Regions from separate parts of the Homo sapiens genome. Here region 1 is linked to region 2. The links come from fine-mapping of genetic effects on gene expression. A gene starts in region 2. The other region holds a variant in brackets. All regions are shown on one strand. Distances are from middle to middle.

The links.
Region 1: its variant is fine-mapped to the expression of ETFA in nasal epithelium (TOPMed, PIP above 0.99). The same link has a PIP of 0.9 or more in tibial artery.

The regions. Positions count from the first base shown.
Region 1 is chr15:76,175,597-76,183,925 of GRCh38, reverse strand. TMEM266 (transmembrane protein 266) reads right to left here. Exons shown (of 11, transcript NM_152335.5): 8 at 8,252-8,329. LOC101929439 (a long non-coding RNA gene) reads left to right here and starts at 2,440. Exons shown (of 3, transcript NR_120360.1): 1 at 2,440-2,974; 2 at 5,142-5,380; 3 at 7,456-8,329. RefSeq lists enhancers at 2,040-2,089, 2,300-2,349. The variant C/G (reference allele first, on the strand shown) is at 5,034.
Region 2 is chr15:76,306,546-76,314,874 of GRCh38, reverse strand. It overlaps ETFA (electron transfer flavoprotein subunit alpha), which reads left to right and starts at 3,406. Exons shown (of 12, transcript NM_000126.4): 1 at 3,406-3,525. The coding sequence starts at 3,487. RefSeq lists a cis regulatory region at 801-1,222 and enhancers at 2,784-2,833, 2,894-2,943, 3,153-3,653, 3,654-4,154.

The DNA of each region.
Region 1 (8,329 bases), 130 kb after region 2:
ACCCACCACCTCCCACGTCTGCTCCGGTTCCTCCACGTGAAAGACAGCGAAGGGGATGGAGGGGGGGCGTGACAGCTTCCTCTCCTCACATCTTCCTCCATCAGAAATGCCTACAGCTTGCAGGGTCAAGATTATCATCTTGTTTCTTCAGGAAAACAGGCCAGGGAGGCATGGCATTCCCCCAGGAAGGACTTTGATAAGTGTGGCTGTGCCGCCTGCTGTGGTGGAACCGGGGAAAGGGTAGGGAATGTTGTGAGCCCATTGGCCTTGTTTTATGGGTTGGGTGACTGTGCAGGCGACTGTTTTCTTCTTGGGCACAAAGACCACTTCTGACAGCATCTGGTGCCCCTAGTTGGTACTGTGCAACTGACTCTTGCCAATAAAACGGGGGCAGAGCAATATCACCATTTTCAGTCCTGGCCAATAAAAACCTGCTGTGCCCAATTCCCCAGCCTCACTTTCCTATCCACTGACTGGAGAAGACTCCGAGGACTTGGAGGAAGAAGGATCGGCCGGGCTTGGTGGCTCCCACCTGTAATCCCTGCACTTTGGGAGGCCGAGGTGGGTGGATCACTTGAGGTCAGGAGTTCGAGACCAGCCTGGCCAACATGGTGAAACCCCATCTCTACTAAAAATACAAAAATTAGCCAGGGGTGGTGACACATGCCTGTAATCCCAGCTACTCGGGAGGTTGAGGCAGGAGAATCGCTTGAACCCAGGAGGCAGAGGTTGCAGTGAGCCGAGATCATGTCACTGCACTCCAGCCTGGGCCACAGAGCGAGACTCCATCTCAAAAAAAAAAAAAAAAAAAAAAAAAAAAAAGCCACAAAATGGAAGCAGCCTGGAGGCCTGAGTGACTTGTGTGGAACAGAGGGTCCCTCCACCCTGCCCCATTGCAACCTGCATTGGAGTATGATGAGAGTGACAAATGTACTCCTCCTGTGTCAGGACTCAGATTTCTGGATTTGCTGGATGCAACAACTGGTGTTACTCACCCTAACTATCAGTGACTCAGGCAGATGCCTCTTTCTGGCGCAGGGAAATGGACACTGAAGCCCTGGGTTTCTTTCCTAGTCCCTCCATGAAAAACTACAGGATCTGGCCAAAGAATAGCCTCTCTGAGCCTCAGTCTTTCCATGTGAAGGGATTAATAGTACCCAGCCTGCCAACTTTCACCAGCAAAGGAAAAATGAGCTAAAACATGACAGTGCATTTGTGAATGAGCAACCATCATATAGATACATTTAGTAGTTTTTTTTGTTTTGTTTTGTTTTGTTTTTTTGTGACTGAGTCTCGCTCTGTCACCCAGGCTGGAGTGCAGTGGCATGATCTCGGCTCACTTTAAGCTCTGCCTCCCAGGTTCATGCCATTCTCCTGCCTCAGCCTCCTGAGTAGCTGGGACCACAGGCACCCGCCACCACACCGGGCTAATTTTTTATATATATTTTTTTTTAGTAGAGACGGGGTTTCACCGTGTTAGCCAGGATGGTCTCGACCTCCTGACCTCGTGATCTGCCCGCCTCGGCCTCCCAAAGTGCTAGGATTACAGGTGTGAGCCACCGCACCCGACCTCTCTCTTTTTTTTAACCCTTACTGAAAGCCTCCAGCAGGCCAGATTTAATTTGATGCATATGGCATCCACACGATGTAGGCCTTGTTACCTCCAATTTCCCCAATGAGAAGCTGAGGCTCAGGGGTTAAAGGGAAGATGACTGGTCACTGGTGGGGCTGAGGTTTGAATCTGGCTTGCTGGCTCCCCGAATAAGAGGATTCTTTCCACTCCTCCAAGCTCCCCGACAAGGGACTCACCTTTCCCAAGGTCTAAGGATGTCCTAAGGGGCTCACAGGTCCCACTGGTCTCCTTGGAGGCTGGACCTTGAGTCACCCCGGATTGAGCCTCATATCCCTCAGTATTTTGCCAATGATCTCAGGGTGAATGGTGCTGAGGAAGCAGAACGTCAGAGAAGAGAAACTAACTTCCACAGTGGGCCAGGTCAGATCATACTATTTTGTACCAAAAGCTGTTACCAGGCTTAAACATGAAAGAGCGGGTGTAACGGAGACTTCAGAATGTGTTTCGGAACTAGAGCGAGATCCCACGCATGGAGGTACATAAAACCTCAGAGGTGGTTTCGTGAGATGAGTCAGAAGAGTATATCGTTGCATTGATTTAACTGCTGCATCTAAAATGGCTTTGGTTTCTGAAGCAGCCAAGACAGAGAGAGAGACAAGGCATCCACACCGTCTCTCTGAAGGGCAGCCTCTAGCATCGTGACTTTGGACTCCATCTGTGTACCAGCGAGCCTAACTCGTCATGAAATTCTGGCCAAGATCCACCCCTCACCAAAAACAAACAAACAAACAAAAAGAATGGAAAAGAACTTCCACCTAAGGAATTGAGGAATTGCTGAATTCAGGGGTCAGAAGCCATGTGCTTCTATCACAGCAGCGGGGAGTCTGGAAGGGACTGCAGAAGGCATGGCCAGGGCTTTGGAATGGTATGACTGACCAGCAGAGAGACCTCCTCCCCTCCCGGGATCCTCTAGGCACCCCTCCCCAAGTAGGAATCTGTTAAGCATGAGGTGTGTCCACAACCAGAAGAGATCATAGGAATGAGGGAAGCAGTGAAGCCTGTTTCCCTGTCAAAGCCAGAGGGCCAGTGTGATCCAGGAGGGAAGGCACTGGAATGAGCAACAAGAGACCTGTTTTCGTCCTGGCCTCATAACTGCTGTGCCACGTTGGGCCCACCTCTCCCTTTCTCTGAGCCTCAGATGCCCCATCTGCCAAATCCTGGATTGGGCCAGCTGCCCTCCCCAGGGACCTTTCATCTGTTATATAAGGTGATTCTGGAGCACCTTGCATGTGGGCCTGTGACAAGAAATGAACTGCCATGTAGCACAGAAGGTGAAATGAATCAGATATTCATGCAAGAAACTGGCCAACAGGCTCACCTGAGAGTCTCCACAGGGTCACGGTAAGAAGCAATGTAATCTTTCTTAAAAAGTTAAGATGGGCTGGGTGCGGTGGCTCATGCCTGTAATCACAGCACTTTGGGAGGGTGAGGCGGGTGGATCACCTGAGGTCAGGAGTTTGAGACCAGCCTGGTCAACATGGTGAAACCCCGTCTCTACTAAAAATACAAAAATTAGCTGGGCATGGTGGCAGGTGCCTGTAATCCCAGCTACCCGGGAAGCTGAGGCAGGAGAATCTCTTGAACCCAGGAGGTGGAGGTTGCAGTGAGCCAAGATGGCGCCACTACACTCCAGCCTGGGTGACAGAGTGAGACTCTGTTCCAAAAAAAAAAAAAAAAAAAAAAAAGCTTAAGATGAAGAAACAGAGAGTAACTGTGCAGTGGAGACACCTGACCCACGCTGCCCCAGCCGGGTGATCCAGGCCGCATCACAGTGAGAAGTCACGTGGCCAGTGTGTCCTCTTGATGTGAGACAATAAGAATGGCACTTTCCTTCTGCAGTCTTCCTCCCAAAACCCACAACCCCAGGCTTACCCTGGGAAAAACATCAGACGAATCCCAACAGAGGGGCATCCTGTAAAACAAAAACACCCGACCAGTGCTCCCCAAAACCCTTCAGGTCATCAGAAACAAAGTCTGAGAAATTGCCACAGCCAGGAGGAGCCTAAGCCTACTGAATGCGACGTGGAGCAAACAGAGGACATAACAGATTAAATACTAAGAAAACCTGAGTACCGTATCAATGTGGGTTTGTTCATTGTAACAAATGATACTAGTGTATGATGTTAATGATGGGCAGCCAGGCACAAGGGATACAGGGAACTCTGCACCTGCTTCACTATTTTTTGGTCAATATAAAACTGTTCTAAAAAATAAAGTTTATTTTTTTAAAAAGAGCTGGGTGAAGTTGTGGCAAATAGTTGAAATAGTTGTACAAACACACCCCAGCAAGAGAGCAAGGGAGTGAAAAGCGTTTTGTTTTGTTTTGTTTTGTTTTGTTTTAGAGACAGTCTTGCTCTGTGGCCCAGGCTGGAGTGCAGTGGTGTCATTACAGCTCACTGCAGCCTCAAACTTCTGGCCTCAAGCAGTCCTCCTGCCTCAGCCTTCCAGAGCACTGGGATTACAGGTGTGAGCCATCGCGCCAGGCCAGGTGTTGTATTTAAACTGGGACCCTAACACATTTCATTGGTAAATGTCAATTTTTCAGGCAGCATATGTGAATTCAGTTTGGAAATGTCTTCATTATACTCTGAGAATTCCAGCAAGGAGACAGCAAGAGTTTGTCACAAGGAATACTAGACTGTCCTGGAACGGGGTTGGGGGCTGCCATTGAGACAGCTGAGGGGAGCCAGGTCTGTGCCTGCAGTATAAAATACCCCATGCATAATCTGATCAATGTTTTTGCTGAGTGCTAAGTGCCATGAGTAGGAAAAAGGAGGCTCAACGTGATGGGCTGGAAAAGAACAGTGTTCACAGTTAGGACACCTGGTTCTATGCCCCCCTGGACTAGCTGTGTGCCCCCAAGGCGAGCTGCCACTGCTCAGTTTTCTTATTTGTAAAATGGGTGTGTGGGGCAGGTGTGGTGGGGCTGGTGGACTTCGGGGTCCACACCCATTAGTTGCTACCCATCATGTGTCAGGCTTTAGGCTACGATCTCATCACCATCCTTCGAGGATTCTATTACTACACCCATTTTTCAGATTAGGAAAACCAAGGCCCATAGATGTCCCATTAATGCCCAAAGCCACAAGGCCAGTAAGTGTTCTAAAGAGAGACACACCTGGGTTCGAAGCCAGCTCAAAGTCTATTTAGAACCAAGTCTATTCTCAACCATTCCATGGGCTGCTGTCTCCAAGGGTCTAGCCATCTCTGACATTCCAGGGCCCACAGTCTCATTTCCTCCAGGGTATCTGTTACCCAGTCAAGTCTCAAACCAGGTCTGAAAATACAGCTGCAAGTGAGGCATCTGTCTGCTTCGCTCTGTGGAGTGGGCACCACAGACTCCAGGAGAGCTGCCCTCCTGGTCCCTCTGGCCAGGCAGCCCCCACCCTCCCCGGTGGCC[C/G]CACTGGGAGTCCAGCCTGTCTGGCCCTTTCTGCTGTCTTAACTAAGATGACAGGCTTCAGGTGTTTTTTAAATTAAAATGGTTCGTTTCTGTTCATCTCTTTTCCAGATGTCGCTACCTAGAGGGAATCTGTCTTTATTTATTGGCTCTTTCCTGTGCAGAATGCAAGGGAGTCTCCCTCCGGCTGAGACCCCCGGGAAGGAGGCCACATGTGGAGGTGACTTGAACCAGGACGGCAGGAACCTGGGGTCCCCGGGGGGCTCCGGACAGAGGTCATGGTGGAAACCCTGGGAGGTGGGGTTGCCGTTAGGATTTTCTCCTGGCCACGTGGCGCATGTGTGGCTGAGGTGAGGTGTGCGGCAGGGTCAGCGCGTTCCCTGCTGGGCTGGGAGGCTGCGAATTTATGAGGGGCGGATGCAGCCCTGTGTCCGTGTCTTTCACGTTGCCAACTGCAGTGAAGTAGAGCATTTGTTTTCCTGTTCAACAGCAGAATGAGAACTGCCTGATCGGCTTCCAGTCGCTTTCTGGATGACACCCTGCACTTTACTTTCCCCACTTCCCTGCAGCCCCCTCTGCCTAAAGCCCAGCTTCTCTCACCTTCTTCTCCAGCCTCTGTCCCCAGTCTTCCTGTCTCCACCCTGCCCTCTCCATCCAGCCTCCAACGGCAGCCAGAAGGCTCCATCAACAACTCACATCTGAGCAGATCCCCCAGTCCTGCTTTTAATCCTCCAGGCTTCCTCTGTCCCAGCAGGATAAAGCCCAAACTCTCTGGTCAGCCACAGAGCCCCTTCCCAAGCCTGTCCCCAATCCTACTGCCTCCCTCTGCTCACCCTCTAAATGGCCCCGAACCCCGGGGGCACTGCACCCACTCGCACACCCCACACTGTTCCCTCTGCCTGGCAGCCTTCTCCCCAGGGCTCTGCTCCACATCAGCTCCTCTGGAAAGCCTTCCCCATCCTGGCCTGCAGAGCCCGGGACGTGCCCATGTGATACAGGCATTGCACCAGATTTCCACTGCCTATTTATGGGCTGCCAAACCCCCTGAGTCACCCAGAGCCCCGTGAGGACGAGGGTCACACCCTGTCCTAGGCGGCATCCACATGCCCGGCACAAGCCCAGCACAGAGCAGCTCTGGACGGTGCTGGCTAACCACGCGATATGGCAAGAGAATGAATGAAGCTGATGCCAGCTCCTCAGGAAGGGAATGCTTCTCTTCCTAGTCTAGGATTCCATAGCCTGCCCTGCTCTCGGGACACCTTGGACAACGTGCCCCTGAGGGCCATGTCCCCTGATGACCCCTCTTGTCACGCATAGGCATTCTGTGCGAAACAAAAGGTCATAGTGTTCCCAAAGCAGATAAAAAGATTGGTTTCCTGACAGACATTCCGAGGGGATGATTCTGAAGACACTGTGTGCGTGTTCCTGTGGGGACATTTCCCAGGATCACTTTGTTGTGACATTCCACAGACGTGTCCCCCACCCCAAAACTGTGAGAGGCTGGGGTTGGTCGAGGAGCCAACAGGTACAGTGAATATGCATTTACCAAGACCCGCAACAGAATACACATTTACCAAGACCCACGACATACACTGAACACACATTGACCAAGACCTACAACGCGCGGAGTGCTGGCTGGGGCCGGATGTGAGTTGGACTAAGGCTTGCCTTCAGGGGGCATCTATTTCAGCGGGAAGAGCTGCCCCAGGCATAAAGGAGCACTGACCATGGCAGTGAGTGCCCAGTGCCCTGTGAATGTGGACAAGTGAGGGCTGCTGCAGGGCTGGGGGAGGAGGTGCAGAGGCTACTGGCGGGGGGAACATGCTCTGTAGAGAGGCTAGGACTTGAATTAGACAGACAGAGCTTGCAAGGGGCGGGGATTCAGGCAAGGGGCACAGCGCAACCAAAACCCAAGAGGTGGCATGGCACAGGGCTTGTCAAAATGACAGGTGACTCCACTTGGCACAGTCGGGGTGTTTATGCACCAGACACATGAGAGAGGAGGTCGATAGGACGGGCAGACACATAGCAGGCCTGTACGCCACATGAGACCTCAACCCTGAGGCCACCTTGGAGACTGCCTGGGCACCCAGCAATGGGGGAGGAATAGGGAGCCCAGGGGTGCCCATCCTCACCGCACTGCAAGCCAGAAGGGCTCAGTGCCCACATCAATATGCGGCCACGGGCATTCCTCCACTTTCACTGGCAGGACATGGGCTGGAAGACAGCCCGTGAAGAACTCGCCTGGCCCTGGGCACAGAGAGCCACAGGCTTAGCGTCTCTGGCTTGCGCAGCTGGGGGCAGTGGCCCTGTCCTCTCCCCAGAATCCATCGGGCAGAATGGGAATGACCATGCATGTCATTTGGACCATCCCCCACATTCCCACCACCTTGCCAGTCCCCTCAGTAGCATTCCCACCTTACAGCCTGGGACCGGACCCTTCCCTGCACACCGAGCTGCACTTCTACAGAGCTCTCAGCCTTGCTGCGGGATCCAGCAGCCACCCCCTCCTGAGTACCCCAATCCCCCTCCTCTGAACTCCTCTGTCCCACTCACATGGGAGCAGCCACCTCATCTTACAGAGGAAGGAACTGAGGGCAGAGGGGTGGCCCAACTTGGCCGGAGTCCGGCGGGGTGGGAGCAGCAGGGCTAGGCCTTGAATGCAGGTCTCTGGATTCCCGACAGGGTGCCCCTGGCCCAGCTGCCAGTCCCCCTTGCCTCTGCTGAGCCCATCCTTGCAGGGCCCACCACCTGCCTCTCTGAGTCTGCATCACATCTCCTGGAGGGTAGAGAGCACCGCTAGCATCTTTCTGGGGCCCTGGGCGTCCCGCGTGGCAATGGGCATACCATGGTGCCCAGCAACCCTCAGCAGACAGAATTAGCGACTGGCTTTAGAGACCGACCATGTCTCCGAGAAGACTCTGATGAACTGAGGGGGCGACTTGGCAGACTCAGGTTGGGGAGCTGAAGAGTCACCGTGCTACAGTGGAAAGAACCCTGGCCTGGGAGTCAGGGTTGAGTCCATGCCTGGCTGGGCTATACATCAGTGAACCTGGAGATGTGTCCCCTTCTCTGGGCTTCAGGTTCCCCATGAGTCCAACAAGGGGCTGGAGGAACTCCCTGACCTCTGGTGCCCCTGCAGCTCTAGCAACCCATGGCTTTAGGCACTACCAGTGTCCCCAGCAAGACCACGGACAGAGCCGAAAGTGGCAGTGCATTACCCCTTGCTCCTGACAGATCTGCGTCAGCCTCTCCAGCTGCTCGTCTTGGATGACCTTGGCCTTCTCGTACTGCTGGAT
Region 2 (8,329 bases):
CTCTGTCATCCGGGCTGGAGTACAGTGGTGTAATCTTGGCTCACTGCAACCTCTGCCTCCCAGGTTCAAGTGATTCTCATGCCTTAGCTGCAGGGGTAGGTGGTATTATAAGAACATGCTACCACACCCGGCTAATTTTTGTATTTTTAGTAGTGAAGGTGGGGGGAGGGTCTCGCCATGTTGACCAGGCTGGTCTTGAACTCCTGACCTCAAGTGATCCGCCCGCCTCGGCCTCCCAAATTGCTAGGATTACAGGTGTGAGCCATTGCACCTAGCCCATTGGACACATATTTCTACAAATGTTTGCTGAACATCTAAAAATAAGAAGCAAATAAATAGGCTGGACACGGTGGCTCACGCCTGTAATCCCAGCACTTTGGGAGGCCACGGCAGGCAGATCACCTGAGGTCAGGGCTTTGAGACCAGCCTGACCAACATGGTGAAACCCCATCTCTACTAAAAATACAAAAATTAGCTGGGCATGGTGGTGGGCACCTGTAATTCCAGCTACTTGGGAGCCTAAGGCAAGAGAATCCATTGAAACTGAGGGGAGGTGGAGGTTGCAGTGAGCCGAGATCGCGCCACTGCACTCCAGCCTGGGTGACAGAGTGAGACTCCGTCTCCAAAATAAATAAAATAAAAATAAGTAAATAAAAGGAAACCATAGGTCCTGCCACCAAAGCGGCTCCTAATGGAGTGGGAAAGTCATATGCCTCTAGGGAAAATCTTCTAATAGAAATGTCTTAGCACACACATTTCTGTGGTACATAACCTGGTTGTGATTGTAGAACCCTGATACATCCCAAAGCCTCAGGGGGCGTTTCATGTGTGATCAGAACAGGTCTGGTCAGGTGTCACAGACTTTGCCCATTTTTAGCCTCTCCCTCTGCTCTGAACTGCTCCACCAGGAACCCCCAGGGGCAACGAGACTCTGGGGTGAACAGCTGCTGCTGATTTGCCCAAGCCTGGGAGCTGTTGAATCTGCCCAGTGGGGGCAGGGCGGGGCAGCCGCTCTCCCCTTGTATTTCGCTTTGTCATGGGTGGGGAGGTAGGGAAGGAGGTTAGTTTGTATCCCAGTTTTTTATATGGTTTTTAGTAAAATATCCTTTTCTGTTTTTACTAAAAGTACCCTTCCCTCTTCCTTCCACTCCCATAGGTCTCAGATTCTAGTCCAGTGTGGGACTGGTTAGGAGGTAAATGCAGTGAGACATGGAATACTAAATTGCCCCTCCCACAGGCAGATTGACTGGGGGACAGGGGTCCACAGCTCTGTCGGCAACATGAGTTCAGACGTGTTCGAAGTGGGTGCAACTTAAGTTTAAGATGGGTCCTCACCTCCTTGTTCATAGAGCTACAAGAGTGAAGAAGAGGAAAGGATTAATTCATCCTGCAGAATTGAGAAAGAGCTTACAAAAGAAATGTCACTTGGGCCAGGCGTGGTGGCTCATGTCTGTAATCCCAGTACTTTGAGAGGCCAAGGTGGGAAGATCACTTGAGGCCAGGAGTTCGAGACCAGCCCTGGGTAACCCTGCCCCTACAAAAAAAAATAGCTGGGCATGGTGGCACATGACTGTAGTCCCAGCTACTTGGGAGGCTGAGGCAGGAAGATTGCTTGATCCCAGGAGTTCGAGACTGCAGTGAGCTGTGATGGCACCACCGCACTCCAGCCTGGGAAACAGAGTGAGACCTTGTCTTAAACAGAACAAAAGAATTGTCACTTGATCTGGGTTTTAAAGAGGGCTGTCAGATGGGGAAGGGAATTTCAGACAGAGGGAAGAGCAAAAGCGCAAGGCCCTTAGAGTGCTTGTTAGTTCAGACAAAGCTCTTGCTTCAGGGAATTTACACTCCAATGCAGTGAGATCAGCAATAAACAAACATGTGCATCCTGTTAGGCAGTGATAAATGCCAAGAAAAAAAATCAAACAAGGTGATAGGGCGTCTGGGAGTGGCATGGGTGCTATTTTAGGTGGAGAGGCTAAGGCCGGCCTTTCTGCAAATGTGTTTTTTGAGCAGAGACCTGAATGAAGTGAGGAAGTACGCCACGCGGGTAACAAGAGAAGGCCATTTCAGGCAGAGGGAAGAGCCAGAGTGCAAAACTCTGAGAGGAGCAGGCTTGTGTGCTCAAGAAGGCCTATGTATCTGGGGAACAGTGAGAGAAGAGGGCAGTGGGAGGAGAGGGAGCCACCATAGGGCTTTGAGCAGAGGTCATGATCAGTCCATCAGTTTGGAGAAGAGGCTTCTGGAAACATGGGCAGAAACAGAAAGACCAGTTAGGAGGCTTTGCAATGATCCAGGCGAGAGAGGACAGGGTCCTGAGTGAAGGTGATACCAGCAGAGGAGCAAAGGGGTGTTGGAGGATATTGCTGGATTCTGGTTATCTTTTGAAGGTAGAGTCAACGGGATTTGTTGATAGACTAGATAACATTGGAAAGGTAGGTTGTTGCTGAATTGGGAATTGAGACAATTTCTGAACATACCACTTCCCTCTTAAAAATTTCGTGTTAAAGTCCAGACTCATTAGCAGTCATTTATTCATTTGCTTATTCATTCAACACATACTGATTGAATGCCTAGTATGGACCAGGCATTGTGCTAGGTGTTGCAGGTAGACACAAAATTTAAAAGTAGGGCATACTGGCCGGGCGCGGTGGCTCACGCCTGTAATCCCAGCACTTTGGGAGTCCGAGGCGGGCGGATCACGAGGTCAGGAGATCGAGACCATCCTGCCTAACACTGTGAAACCCCGTCTCTACTAAAAATACAAAAAAATTAGCTGGGCGTGGTGGCGGGCGCCTGTAGTCCCAGCTACTCGGGAGGCTGAGGCAGAAGAATGGAGTGAACCCGGGAGGCGGAGCTTTCAGTGAGCTGAGCTCGCGCCACTGCACTCCAGCCAGGGTGACAGAGGGAGACTCTCTCTCTCTCAAAAAAAAAAAAAAAAAAAAGGGCATACTTTCTGCCCTTACAGATCTTCAGTCAGATGGGTGACACAGACAAGTACTTAGGTTATTACAACCCATGTGACAATTGCTACCATGGGGAAATACAGGGGGAAATAGGGGCATATAGGAAAGGTATCTAATTGGAATTGGCAAGGCTCCACTCGTACCTTACCCCGAGGTCAGCTCAGTTTTGAAGTTCACTCTAGCAGTGCTGACCATTGCGGGGCTGTGAGACAGTACAGTCTGAGCTCGGTCATCAGCGGGTGGCCAGCTTTGTCTCTGCCGCTCCGCGGCCCGGGCTTACTCGAAGGTCCCCGGGGAATAGCCTCACCTTTGCCCCACTTCCCAGTCTAGCCCCTAACTTCCCGCCGTCTATTGGCTGCGCAGCCGCCCAATGGGCAGGCGGAAACCGCGGGCTCGTGCTCCCGGCCTAGGGCGTCTTATCTCGTTCGCGCGTCTCGCGAGCATTAGGTGACTGGCTGAGGCGGCGCCAGTTGGCCGGGCACGGGGCTGCTGTAAGGCCGAGGTTGCGGCGGAAGCGGAGACCATGTTCCGAGCGGCGGCTCCGGGGCAGCTCCGGCGGGCGGTGAGTCCGGACTGGGAAGGCGAACCCAGGGACGGCCCCCCGTCAACCCGCCGTCCCTATGGGGTCTTGCAAAGATCACTGGCCCCCTCAGATTCGACCAGCCCTCGCGCCCGCAGGCCGGTCCCCGCCTGGGACTTGGGTCCAAAGTTCTGGGGCCTACCCTGGACTCCCTGCGGAACGCCAGTTCGGGGCAGAAGTCAGAGGTTTGGGGTCAGGGTGACCCCGAATGATGTGAATTTGCGCGTCTGCTGCCCCTTCTTCTGGCCCACTCTCTGCCCTGCCGTTTCCCACCTTTGTCGGTCACTCTGGGCACTTTCGGGCCGCCAGGTCCTCCACACTTGCTCCACACCCGAGGGAGCAAAATGTCACCGGGGAATGCCCTGTTGGGGAAAGTTTCAAACCTAGATTCCTCCCGGAGGCCGGCATTTCTGGAAGAATTAAACACTTTGGGCGCATCGTGGCTACTCCGACCCACTCACTGTCAAGGGCGGGGGTGGGGTGGGGTGGGAGGCTGCGTGGCCAGTTATGGAAGCTGGTTCTGCTTTCTGGTTTATGGAGCAGGGCTGAATTTAGGTGATTGTATTTGTAAAACCTGCGATCCGATTTGACAGCTTTAGCCAGTTTTGAAAGGCAGACGTCTTTTTATATGCTTCAGGCTGACCTGCTTTTAACCAGCAGATTGTAGATTAGGTTAACTGGTGACAGTGGTACATTTTCAGTGTTTCATTAGTGACAAACCACATTTCTCTCTTCTGTTGTGAGAAGGACTGATAGGAAACATATTTTCCTTCTCATGCTGTGGGAAAGGAGTATTTGGAGACTGACCAGTCACAAGTCAAGTAACAATAATTTATATTGTGGATTGTGTAGTTTTCCTAGTTTACATTTAGGTGAAATGAGAAACAAGATTGGTAAACTTGGGTCAGAAACTTACCTGATGGTTTGTACCTTTTCTCCTTTTTTTTTTTTTTTTTTTTTTTCTGGGCATGGATATTTTCCCATCCACTCCTGGGATTTTTCTCTCTGAGGCATAGCTGGAGCTCTTTCTAGATGTCTGTAGACATTAGACTTTTGTTTGTTTGTTTGTTTGTTTGTTTAAGAGACAAGGTCTGGCTCTGTTTCCCATGCTGGAGTGGAGTGCAGTGGCACGATATGGGCTCACTGCAACCGTCGCCTCCCAGGTTCAAGCGATTCTCCCACCTCAGCTTCCCGAGAAGCTGGGATCACAGGTGCGCATCATCACGCCTGGCTAATTTTTTTTTTTTTTTTTTTTTTTTTTTTGTAGAGACGGGGTTTCCCCATGTTACCCAGGCTGGTCTCGAACTCTTGTCCTCAAGTGATCCACCTGCCTCGGCCTCCCAAAGTCCTGGAATTACAGGCCTGAGCTACCGCACCTGGCCTTAGACATCTTTTTTCTTGTGCGTATTCCTTGTTTAATAAAAAGTTCTGACCCTCCCCTCCCCTAAAGAGTTCAAACCCATGTCTTTCAGGTTAGTGTCCTGTCTTCCCCTCAGGACATGTTTTCTCCCGGTTGGGGATCTAGACATAAACAAGTGAAAATCATGAATTTGGGGAAATTCCAGGAACCTGAGCCAGAAGAATGCTGCTCTATGCAGCAGTTGGAAAACAGTTTTGTGGACAGATTACAAGTCTGGCCTAAGTGAAATTATAATTGTGGTGGGGGATGGAATTTAGGACTCAGTAATTTTGTAGAGCTAACAGAAAAAAATGGAATGATTAAGTAATTTTTACTATCCACATCGTTGGCTAATGTGTATAGACATTACTTCCAGATATTCATTGTGGTTTGCCAAAGACTTTGACCTTGACTTATTTTTAAAATTTGAAGTCAAGCTAAGTAGAATAGCTGTTTTTTTTGTTTGTTTGTTTGTTTGTTTTGAGACGGAGTCTCGCTCTGTCGCCCAGGCTGGAGTGCAGTGGCGCGATCTCAGCTCACTGCAAGCTCCGCCTCCCGGGTTCACGCCATTCTCCTGCCTCAGCCTCCTGAGTAGCTGGGACTACAGGTACCCGCCACCACGCCCCGCTAATTTTTTTGTATTTTTAGTAGAGACGGGGGTTTCACTGTGTTAGCCGGTATGGTCTCGATCTCCTGACCTCATGATCCGCCCGCCTTGGCCTCCCAAAGTGCTGGGATTACAGGCGTGAGCCACCGCGCCCAGCCTAGAATAGCTGTTTTAAAGTCATTAAGAATGTTGGAGAGATTTGGATTTCTAGCATAAAAGAAATGGTGGCAACACTTCTAAAGTGGACCCATATATTAATAGGGACATATACCTGTATTTAACTTTTTAAATTTTGAAATAGTTGCACTTATAGAAAAGTTGCAAGAATAGTACAAAGAAATCTCAAAACCCTTCCCCTGGTTTTCCCAGCATGTTAGCAGTTTGACACATTTGCTTTATCTTTCCACATATATACATAATACTATCTTTCTGAACCATTTGAAAGTATGTTGCAAATGTGCCCTTTACTCCTAAATAATTGAGTGATATTTTAAAAGAACAAAGAGGTTCACTTTCTAACTACACTGTAATTGGCAATATCTGGAAGTTTCACCATAAAATACTGTTTTCTAATCTATGGATGTTCAATTTTGCCAGTTGTCCCATTAGTACAGTTTATAGCAATTTTCCTTATTCTGGTCTAAGATACTCTAGATGTCCTGCAAGTGGTTTTCATGTCTCTTTACTCTGTTAGAAAGGTTCCTCAGCCTTCCTTTGGGTTTGATGACATTGGTGTATTTGAAGAGTACAGGCCTTCTATTTTCCAGACTGTCACTCAATTTGGGTTTGTCTGGTGTTTCCTCATGATTAGATTCAGGTCATGTATTCTTGGTGGGAATATCACAAAAGTGGTATTGTGTTCCCCGTGCATCATATTAGCAGGTACTTAATGTTGGTTTATCCCATTAGTGGTAATGCTGACTTTAGTTACTTAGCCAAAGTGTTGTTTGCCAGGTTTCTCCACTGTCAAGTTAATACTCCTCCTTTTGTAATTTTTAACTAATTTGTGAGGCGATTCATTGAGACTATGTGACTGTCCTATTTCTCATCAGACTTTTACCCAGTCTTAGCATCTGTTGATGATTTTTGCCTGAGAAATGATTACTATGATGCAAAATGGTGATTTTCTATTTCCATGATACCTTCGTACATTTTTTAGTTATTCTACTATAAGGAAGAACATTATCTTCTTGCATATTTATGGATTTATGGATACATGGATCCTTATTTAGGATAATACATTTCTACCTTATGCTGAAGTTGTCTCATGTTTGTAAAGTGGGGCCCATTCAATCTGACTCCTGTTTGTTTACATATATATGTTTGTGATATCACAAAGTCAAAATAGCTTATCTCAAGTCCCCACTCTTGAAATTAAAAAAAAAATGTTCTGTAGCTAACCATTAATGCATTTAGGAAGAGGATACATTTCCAAAACCATATTTAAAAAAATAAAGTTAGGAATTACAGTTAAAAGATTACCATAAACTGTTAACGATGTGCATATAGTTAACACTTAACACTTAAAAATGGTTAAGATGGGGCCAACCATGGTGGCTGACACCTGTAATCCCAGCACTTTGGGAGGCTGAGGCAGATGGATCACCTGAGCTCAGGAGTTCGAGACCAGCCTGCGCAACATGGCGAAACCCCATCTCTACCAAAAAAAAAATTAGCCAGGCGCCATGGTTCACACCTGTAGTCCCAGCTACTTGGGAGGCTGAGGCACGAGACTTGCTTGAACCTGGGCATTTGAGGCTGCATTGAGCCCAGGTAGCACCACTGCCCTCCGGCCTGGGCAACAGAGTGAGACGCTGTTTCAAAAAAAAAAAAAAAGGTTAAGATGGTAAATTTTATGTATTCTTTTAAACCACTTTGTTAAACTATTAGGATATAAGTTCAATGACTTGCATTTGGTATCTAAGTTCCATTTTTAGTTCTGACTGATTTGTGCCATTGAGTAAAGTCTTTCATCCTTATGTGTGTGGCAATGGTCTTTAAAGTCATCTGTTAACAAAGATAGTTTTTATATCTATAATAAAGAGCTAGAGAACACACCAAGAGGCAAATAGGTAGGCATTTGCAGTTAGTTAATATTCTTGCAGGGATATTAATCCTAATTATTGTTATTTATTAATTTGCTCTTGAAATTGATTTATTGAAGAATAAGAAGATGCAGAAAAATATTTATGTGGTGAGTGAAACAACAATTTCAAGGTCATTTGAGTACTCTTTTTACTGTGTTTATTGTCAGGTGGGAAGGAATATCTATCAGGACTGAGAAGCTATGAAACTGGTGTGAAGGAACATGACACTTTTCTGTCTAGTATTGATGAATAAGATTGAACTCTGTAATTTGCATGCAAATTTTAATTTCTATTGAAAGAAGAAAGAGAGCCAATTTTGGTGTGATTCTAAAAGAAAATTTATTGCATAAGGTGAATTCAGTAAAATTATGATGCCTGCCAATGTGTCTACTAAGAGTCTTGTCCTTTCTTAAAGTGAAGTAAATTGACTGTGTTTTTAGTATTACAGTCAATGTCATATAACATTTCTGGTCATGATTAAAAGCTGCTATATTTTATTACTAAAAGGATTAAAGGAAGTATTTAAAGTACAGAAATATACATTTTAAAAATTACAAAATGTATGTTAAAATAGGGATAGGTGACTTTATATATTATCCTTTTGGGTATGACTCAGAAAGATTTTATAGCTTATTCTTGCTGTTTTTCTTTTTTTAATTAAGAAGCAAAAAAACCGGCTGGGTGCAGTGGCTC